Linked DNA regions of Homo sapiens. The protein of the gene in region 1 interacts with the protein of each later gene in a pairwise test. Each region holds a gene or a part of one and is shown on either strand. Other genes may lie near its edges.

Region 1 (3,751 bases):
TCTTGATCTGACCCCAACTTTAATTCTCTACCTTCATCCTACATTACAGCTTCACTCAGCTTCCTTAAGCCTGCCCTGCTATTTTATACACACCCCCTTTGTATAGGTTGCTCCCTCTATGTCCTTTCTTCCCTTTTCCTTTTCATCTTGGTTTCAAAATCATTTGGCTATGAGCAAGTTATAACTATAACTGGACCTGACTTTTGGCAATATTCACAACTATTTAGGAGTTCTTGCAAAGACAGAAAAATCAACCTACAAGTTGTTTTCAAAATACTACTCATTTTCTTTAGTTGACATTCCACGTTTTTAGACATTTAATTAAATATTTATGTTCAATTTAGTTTCGTTTGTTTGTTTGTTGTTTTTTTTGAGACAATGTCTCGCTCTGTTGCCTAGGCTGGAGGGCAGTGGTATGATCATGGCTCACTGCAGCCTTGACCTCCCAGGCTCCAGCAATCCTCCCACTTCAGCCACCCGAGTAGCTGGGACTACATGCACGTGCCACCATGCCAGGCTAATTTTTGTATTTTTTGTAGAGATGGGGTTTTGCCACGTTGCCCAGGCTGATCTGAAACTCCTGGGCTCAAGCGATTTGTCTGCCTCAGTCTCCCAAAATGCTAGGATTACAGGTGTGAGCCACTGCACCAGACCTTTATGCTCAATTCAGATATTGCTATTTCATTTTGTATCATTGGACCCAATAAAAACTTTTACAGCCCTTGAAAAGCTCAGATTTTGTAAATACCTTTATTTGCTGTAATATCTCTATTAAATCATTTATCACAACATTTTACAATTCATCCGCCTATATTCATTTTTCCCACTAAAATGTGAGCTTAGCAAAGGGAAAAAATTATTTATCCTTATTTATATTCCTAGTTTCCAGGACAGTACATGGCTCAAAGGAAACCCTCAATAAGTCTTTGTTTATTGAAAGGATAGATGAGTGAATGAATGAATGAATGATTGGCACACAGTAACTCAATAAATATCTATTGAATAGAAAATACGACTATGTTATAGGTAATATTCAACAATCATACAATACCTCATCTTAAGTAAGGCCCTGGTTAGAACCACTTTTATGAGTATATCTTTTATGTTTCACACCTAACAGAAGAAACTTTCTTTCAACTTTATTTACATCAAACATTTAATATAAGCTAAACTTTTAAGATGAGAGTGAATATCATTTACAAGATATATAAAATTGATTATCAGATTGGTGCAAAAGTAACTGCAGTTTTTACCACTACTTTTCACCAACCTAATATTAAATTTTTTTTTATTTTTTTTTGAGACGGAGTCTCACTCTGTCATGCAGGCTCGAGTGCAGTGGCATAATCTCGGCTCACTGCAACCTCTGCCTCCCTGGTTTAAGAGATTTTCCTGCCTCAACCTTCCGAGTAGCTGGGATTACAGGCACATGCCACCATGCCCAGCTAACTTTTGTATTTTTAGTAGAGGCAAGGTTTCACCATGTTGGTCAGGCTGGTCTCGGACTCCTGATCTCGTGATCTGCCCACCTTGGCCTCCCAAAGTGCTGGGATTACAGGCATCAGCCAACGTGCCTGGCCCAATGTAATATTATTATTTCGATGTTACTGAGATCCTTTCTACAATGTTCTCTTTTCCTTTCAGCTCCGCTGTGAAGTACCAACATTTTCTTACTGTGACCATAAAACTCCATTCAACAGAAATTACTAAACATTAAATACATGTACTAATGAGAATAGAAAAGAAATAATATCTGTTGTGAGAGATTTAGAGGCTAATTGGGCTAAATCTGGCTGCCCAAAGCTCAAAGACACAATCTGCATGGTAAAGGAGCCTAAACTTAGGGGAAGAACATCAGGAGGAAGAGTTGGCCTGGGCAAATTGAGTTGAATTGTGTTTGCAGAGTAGAGATGAAAGATGCCATTTCTAAATGGATGGAACAGCATGAACAAGAGCCAAGAGGAAAGAATGTGTAGATTGTGGAGATGGGCCTGGTTGAAGCAGACAAGATACAAACAGGGATAAATGGATAAGTGAGGGGAGGGTAGATGGGTAGTTGGCAAAGTGTTTGGGTTTATTCAGTTGGAATTGGCCAGCACAAAGTTTGAGAGACAGGATTATACTGAGGTTTTGTAGAAAGAGACAGCATCTATGAATATTAAGTGGTTCTCCTACATCCTGGGGCAGATTAGATCAGTCTTGACTAGCACAGTGGTTCTCATAGCAACACTTCTCTTTTGATTATACTAGCTTCATTATTTATTTTATTTTATTTTATTTTATTGAGACGGAGTCTCACTCTGTCACCAGGCTGGAGTACAATGGCGTGATCTCAGCTCACTGCAACCTCTGCCTCCTGGGTTTAAGCGATCCTCCTGTCTAAGCCTCCCGAGTAGCTAGGACTACGGGCACACACCACCACACCTTGCTAATTTTTGTATTTTAGTAGAGATGGGGTTTCACCATGTTGGCTAGGATGGTCTTGATCTCTTGACCTCATGATCCACCTGCCTGGGCCTCCCAAAGTGCTGTATTACAGGTGTGAGCCACAGCACCAGGCCCCAAGCTTCATTTATTAAGAGAGTTCTCACTGGCTAAGCATTTCACAGGCATTATCACATTTGATTCTCATCACAACCCTGGAAAATGGGTATTTCATCCATAAAAGATGAGAAAAATGTGGCTTAGAGAAATTAAATAACTTGCTTATGGTTATCCAAGTTGGGCTTTGACTTTGTAATCCATGTTTCCTCCTTCAGTTTGCCTGCTATGTTCGCTGTTAAATTTCTCAGGTCTTCAGTGCTTCATGGATGTGCTCTTAGCAGTAGATTTCAGTGAAGTGATTACCATTTCTGATTTGGACTTCATATTTCTGCTAATACAACATATGACAGCTTATGCAGTACCTTTTTAGCAAGCAGAGCCTATGTTGTCTTCCATGACTTTTGTGTATCCCCAAAACCTAGGTGTCATTCACAAGAACTTTCAACAAACCAGGTCTCTCCCACATTAAATATACATAACTTATTTCTTGAACCCAAACACAGAACCAGACATTTACCTATTTTGAAATGGTATCTTTTTGTTTTGGTTTTCCACCCTTCCAGCCTAGAACAATCTATTTAAATCCTGATTCTGTGAGCTCACCAGTAAGCCATCTACAGAGAATAAGCAGGTGATACAATCACACAGATATCCTTTGGGGAGATAGAGGCTCAGGAGGCAAACTGATAATTTCAGAAGAATTTAGAGCCCACCCACCTAAATTCCCCAGAGAACATCACATAGTCTTTTGAGATGAACTTAGAAGACTCCTTCCCTCCTGGAGAGACGCCTTGGAAGAACTAGACTCTTCCAGGAAGCTCTCCCAGGGCAGGGCTGAAAGGGAAATGCTGAGACCTAACAAACAATAAAGACAATGCTTGGAAGGGAGCATCTGTGAAAAAAGCAAGCTCCTCCCTCTGAGAATAATTCCAAAGGGTGTCTCCGATCCCAGCTTTCAGACCTCCACCCTTGATTACTCAGACTTGACACTAGCCTTCTGAGACCAGCCCTAACAAGGGGGTTTCATCTGGGAGCACTTCCCTGACCTTACAACTGTTTCCTCTGCCACCCCAGACAAGATGTCTGCTATCTCTGAATCCAGTTGTTATTTAAAATGTCAAGTGACAAGGGCGGGCGTGGTGGCTCATGCCTGTAATCCCAGCACTTTGGGAGGCCGAGGCGGGCGGATCACTTGGGGTCAGGAGTT
Region 2 (3,751 bases), on another chromosome or scaffold:
GGGAAGCAGATCTGCGGCTGAACCTCTACCCCAATTACTTAGCGGCGACTGAGCCTATCGAGCAGGTGAAGGGAAGGGGTCTGCCTCTCCCTGGGGTGTGTTTCACAGCTCTGCTGCAGGCAGCATGATGCAGGTGTGGCAGGTCTTCCTAAGGCCCTGCTGTCTCTGTGCTTGTCCCTGGGGTTGCTGTGGTGCCCATTATGCTGGCTTCCAGGAAGCTTTCAGCCACTCCCTTTCCCAGGCCTTCTTCAGAGGCAAGGTGCAGGAGCATGTCTAACAATTTAGGACTTTGTATTTGACATCAGCTTCGCATGGGCATATCCTGTCTCTTTAAAGAGATGGTTCTTAGAGGGGGAAAATGGGAACCCTCCCTACTCTTATACCAGCCTCCTCAGTGACTGCCAGCACAGTGGGCTCTGGTTCCATGCCACTGGCTCAGGACCTTATGATTTGGGCATAAAGTCAGAAGACTGAGGAGGAAGACTGTACAAATGGTTCCCACTCAGAGGGGCTGGAAGGAAGGAGAGAATTTGGAAGAGCAGCAAGAAAAGGGCTCTGTGAGCTTAAATGGAGAATCAGGCCAAGGCACAGCTGAGGGACACAAGTCATCTGCCCAACTAGAGCTGTGGGACCCCTCAAGGGAGGCCTCAAGTGCCAGACTTGGGGACTTGCCATTTGTCCTATAGGGCAGTGCACATTAGACCACCTGAGAAGCATGCTGAAAATGCAGATTCATGCTCTTCACCCCGAGAGTCTGACTGTGGGTTTGGAGAGGGACCTGGGTATCTGTACTTTAAATGAGTTTGCTGGGTAGTTCTGCTGTGATGGTCAGAGGACTGCCTTGGGGAATGCTATAAGCCTATCCATCCATTTCCCAGGGATCCCCTGGAATTGGCCCTCTGGGCACCTGCCCTCTAAACATCCTCTCCCTCTCTGCAGTTTTCCATGGACACAGCCTAGCAGAAAGACGCAGCCTTCGTGCTTCGCTGACTGCTGACCACTGACCCACCGCCTTGATGACAGCACCCTCGTGTGCCTTCCCAGTTCAGTTCCGGCAGCCCTCAGTCAGCGGCCTCTCGCAGATAACCAAAAGCCTGTATATCAGCAATGGTGTGGCCGCCAACAACAAGCTCATGCTGTCTAGCAACCAGATCACCATGGTCATCAATGTCTCAGTGGAGGTAGTGAACACCTTGTATGAGGATATCCAGTACATGCAGGTACCTGTGGCTGACTCCCCTAACTCACGTCTCTGTGACTTCTTTGACCCTATTGCTGACCATATCCACAGCGTGGAGATGAAGCAGGGCCGTACTTTGCTGCACTGTGCTGCTGGTGTGAGCCGCTCAGCTGCCCTGTGCCTCGCCTACCTCATGAAGTACCACGCCATGTCCCTGCTGGACGCCCACACGTGGACCAAGTCATGCCGGCCCATCATCCGACCCAACAGCGGCTTTTGGGAGCAGCTCATCCACTATGAGTTCCAATTGTTTGGCAAGAACACTGTGCACATGGTCAGTTCCCCAGTGGGAATGATCCCTGACATCTATGAGAAGGAAGTCCGTTTGATGATTCCACTGTGAGCCATCCCACGAGCCCCTGCATTGGAGTCAGAGGTACAGATCTATTGTTGATCTTACACCAAGATCCAAACTTGAACATTCTACTTTTGTTGATACAGAAAAAAACAGATGATGCCTTTTATGAGCACAAAAAAGAGTTGCTGTAGCTTTTAACTTTATAATCCATTTTTTTTAAGATTAAACTAATTGTGAGATGGTGAAGATAAATTTTCTGCCCTGTGAGTGACACTGGCCAGGGGATAGGTTGAGGCAGATGGTGCCCAGAAGAAAGAGGGCAGCACCCATTGCACATGGCAGGCCTGGAATCCTGCAGCCCTCCCCAAAAACAGATTGACCCAGGAATGAATCTGCTACAATTCCACCTCATTCTTTCACACCCAGAGCCAGAGCCTTAAGCATCATGGTACCTCTTGCGCTTCTTACAGTGAGTGCCAATCTACTAGATAAATGGCCTTCAGGCAGTGCTCCAGGAATCCTGGGGGGTCCCAGGCCACCTCTGCTTCCACCTTCACTATAAGTGGCCCAGTTCTGGTTTTCTAGATTGTACTTATGCATAAGATAGTTTTTAAAGAAAGCATTCCACTGTGTAAATTTTTTTTTGTCTTTTTTTGAAACTGTCCTGCTCTGTCACCCATCCTAGAGTGCAGTAGTGTGATCATGGCTCACTGTAGCCACAACCTCTCAGGCTCAAGTGATCCTCTTACCTTAGCCTCCTGCGTGGCTGGGACTACAGATGTTTGCCACCATGCCCGCCTCATTTTTTTTCTTTTTTTATAGAGATGAGATTTTACTATGTCGCCCAGACTGGTCTCAAACTCCTGGCCTCAAGCAATCCTCACGCCTCAGCCTCCCAAAGTGTTGATGAGCCACTGTACCCCGATACCACTGTATAAAAAATTTAAAAAAAATTGTGAGTGCTATTGTACATGGCAAAGTTTCAAAGAGCTCTTGGCCATCCCTCACCAAACTTTGGCAAAAGATGGTGTTAGTCCCCTTCTCCAGGGCACATGAGAAAAACAGGCCTAACATCAGGTCTCAGCGGTTCCTCTCACAGGCCTTGGCTTGGAAGGCTGGAGCTTCGGACCAAGGCCCAGCCCTGTCACCTCCTCTTCATGTGATGTGGACCCCTGGGAGCATCAGTGTCCTCATCTGTCCAATGACAGCCCTTTTCTCACAGAGTTATTGTGAAGATTCAACAATTTCTTGGCATAGTGCCTGGCACATGGTGTGTGCTTAGCGCAAATGGCAGCTCTCATCATGAATGATAGACTCTTTCACCCTGCTGGTCCCAGGTCGGCACACACATCCCCATAATGGCATTTCTCCTTTCTGTGCACAGCACTTTATTGTTACAAAGTACTCTTCCAAAAAGTTACCCTGTGTGTAAAAAAAAAAAAAAAAAAAAATGGTTTAAGTCCTTTCAGACCCTACCTCACAGGAGGCCTAGACTTAGAGCCTTTTGAGAGCTTCCGTCTTGTTTAATCTAGGTGCAATCTAGAGGTCCTGAAACAAGGAGCACAGTTCCAGCTTCCCCCAATCACTTCTAAACAGTGACTGCAGCCTTGTTTAGAATCACTATGAAAACCTGCACCCCGGCTGACTACTGGGATCCATAAGGGGGCCGTGTCAAAGGGACTAACTAGTGGACTCCATCAGTAGGCCCTGGAATTCAGGATTGTTCACATCCTCTTGGTGCCAAGGACCTGGCTGAAGACCAGCTCTTCTGATCCAGAGGTTTTCAGCAAACAGCATTTGAAACAAAAGCACAGCTGCTCTGTTTGACACCAAACTGTGGCTCCAGATTCCAGTAGAAGCCAAATGCTTTTTCTTTTAACAGCTGGGTGCCTGTAATCCCAGTTACTTGGGAGGCTGAGGCAGGAGAATTGCTTGAACCCAGGAGGCGGAGGTTGCAGTGAGCCGAGCTTGCACCATTGCACTCCAGCCTGGGCAACAAGAGTGAGACTCCATCTCAAAAAGAAAAAAAAAAAAAAAGAAAAAGAAAAGAAAAAAAGAAATGCTTGGGACCAGAAATATTTTGGATTATTTTCAGGTTAATATTTGCTTTACCTGAAGCAAATATTACTTGAGCATCCCAACTCTAAAATCCAGAATGCTTAAATGAGTATTTCCTTTGATAGTCATTTCAGCTCTCAAAAAGTTTTAGATTT

What was found.
Region 2: the proteins of TEK (region 1) and DUSP18 interact in a two-hybrid assay, tested with the Homo sapiens proteins (one study listed by BioGRID and IntAct).

Annotation. Positions count from the first base shown.
Region 1 is NC_000009.12:27,112,120-27,115,870, reverse strand, and holds part of TEK (angiopoietin-1 receptor isoform 1 precursor), read right to left. Parts: intron 1-3,751. UniProt on the Homo sapiens protein: Tyrosine-protein kinase that acts as a cell-surface receptor for ANGPT1, ANGPT2 and ANGPT4 and regulates angiogenesis, endothelial cell survival, proliferation, migration, adhesion and cell spreading, reorganization of the actin cytoskeleton, but also maintenance of vascular quiescence.
Region 2 is NC_000022.11:30,661,269-30,665,019, reverse strand, and holds the end of DUSP18 (dual specificity protein phosphatase 18), read left to right. Parts: exon of another isoform or gene 1-65; intron 66-939; 5' UTR 940-1,016; coding exon 1,017-1,583; 3' UTR 1,584-3,575; downstream 3,576-3,751. UniProt on the Homo sapiens protein: Can dephosphorylate single and diphosphorylated synthetic MAPK peptides, with preference for the phosphotyrosine and diphosphorylated forms over phosphothreonine. In vitro, dephosphorylates p-nitrophenyl phosphate (pNPP).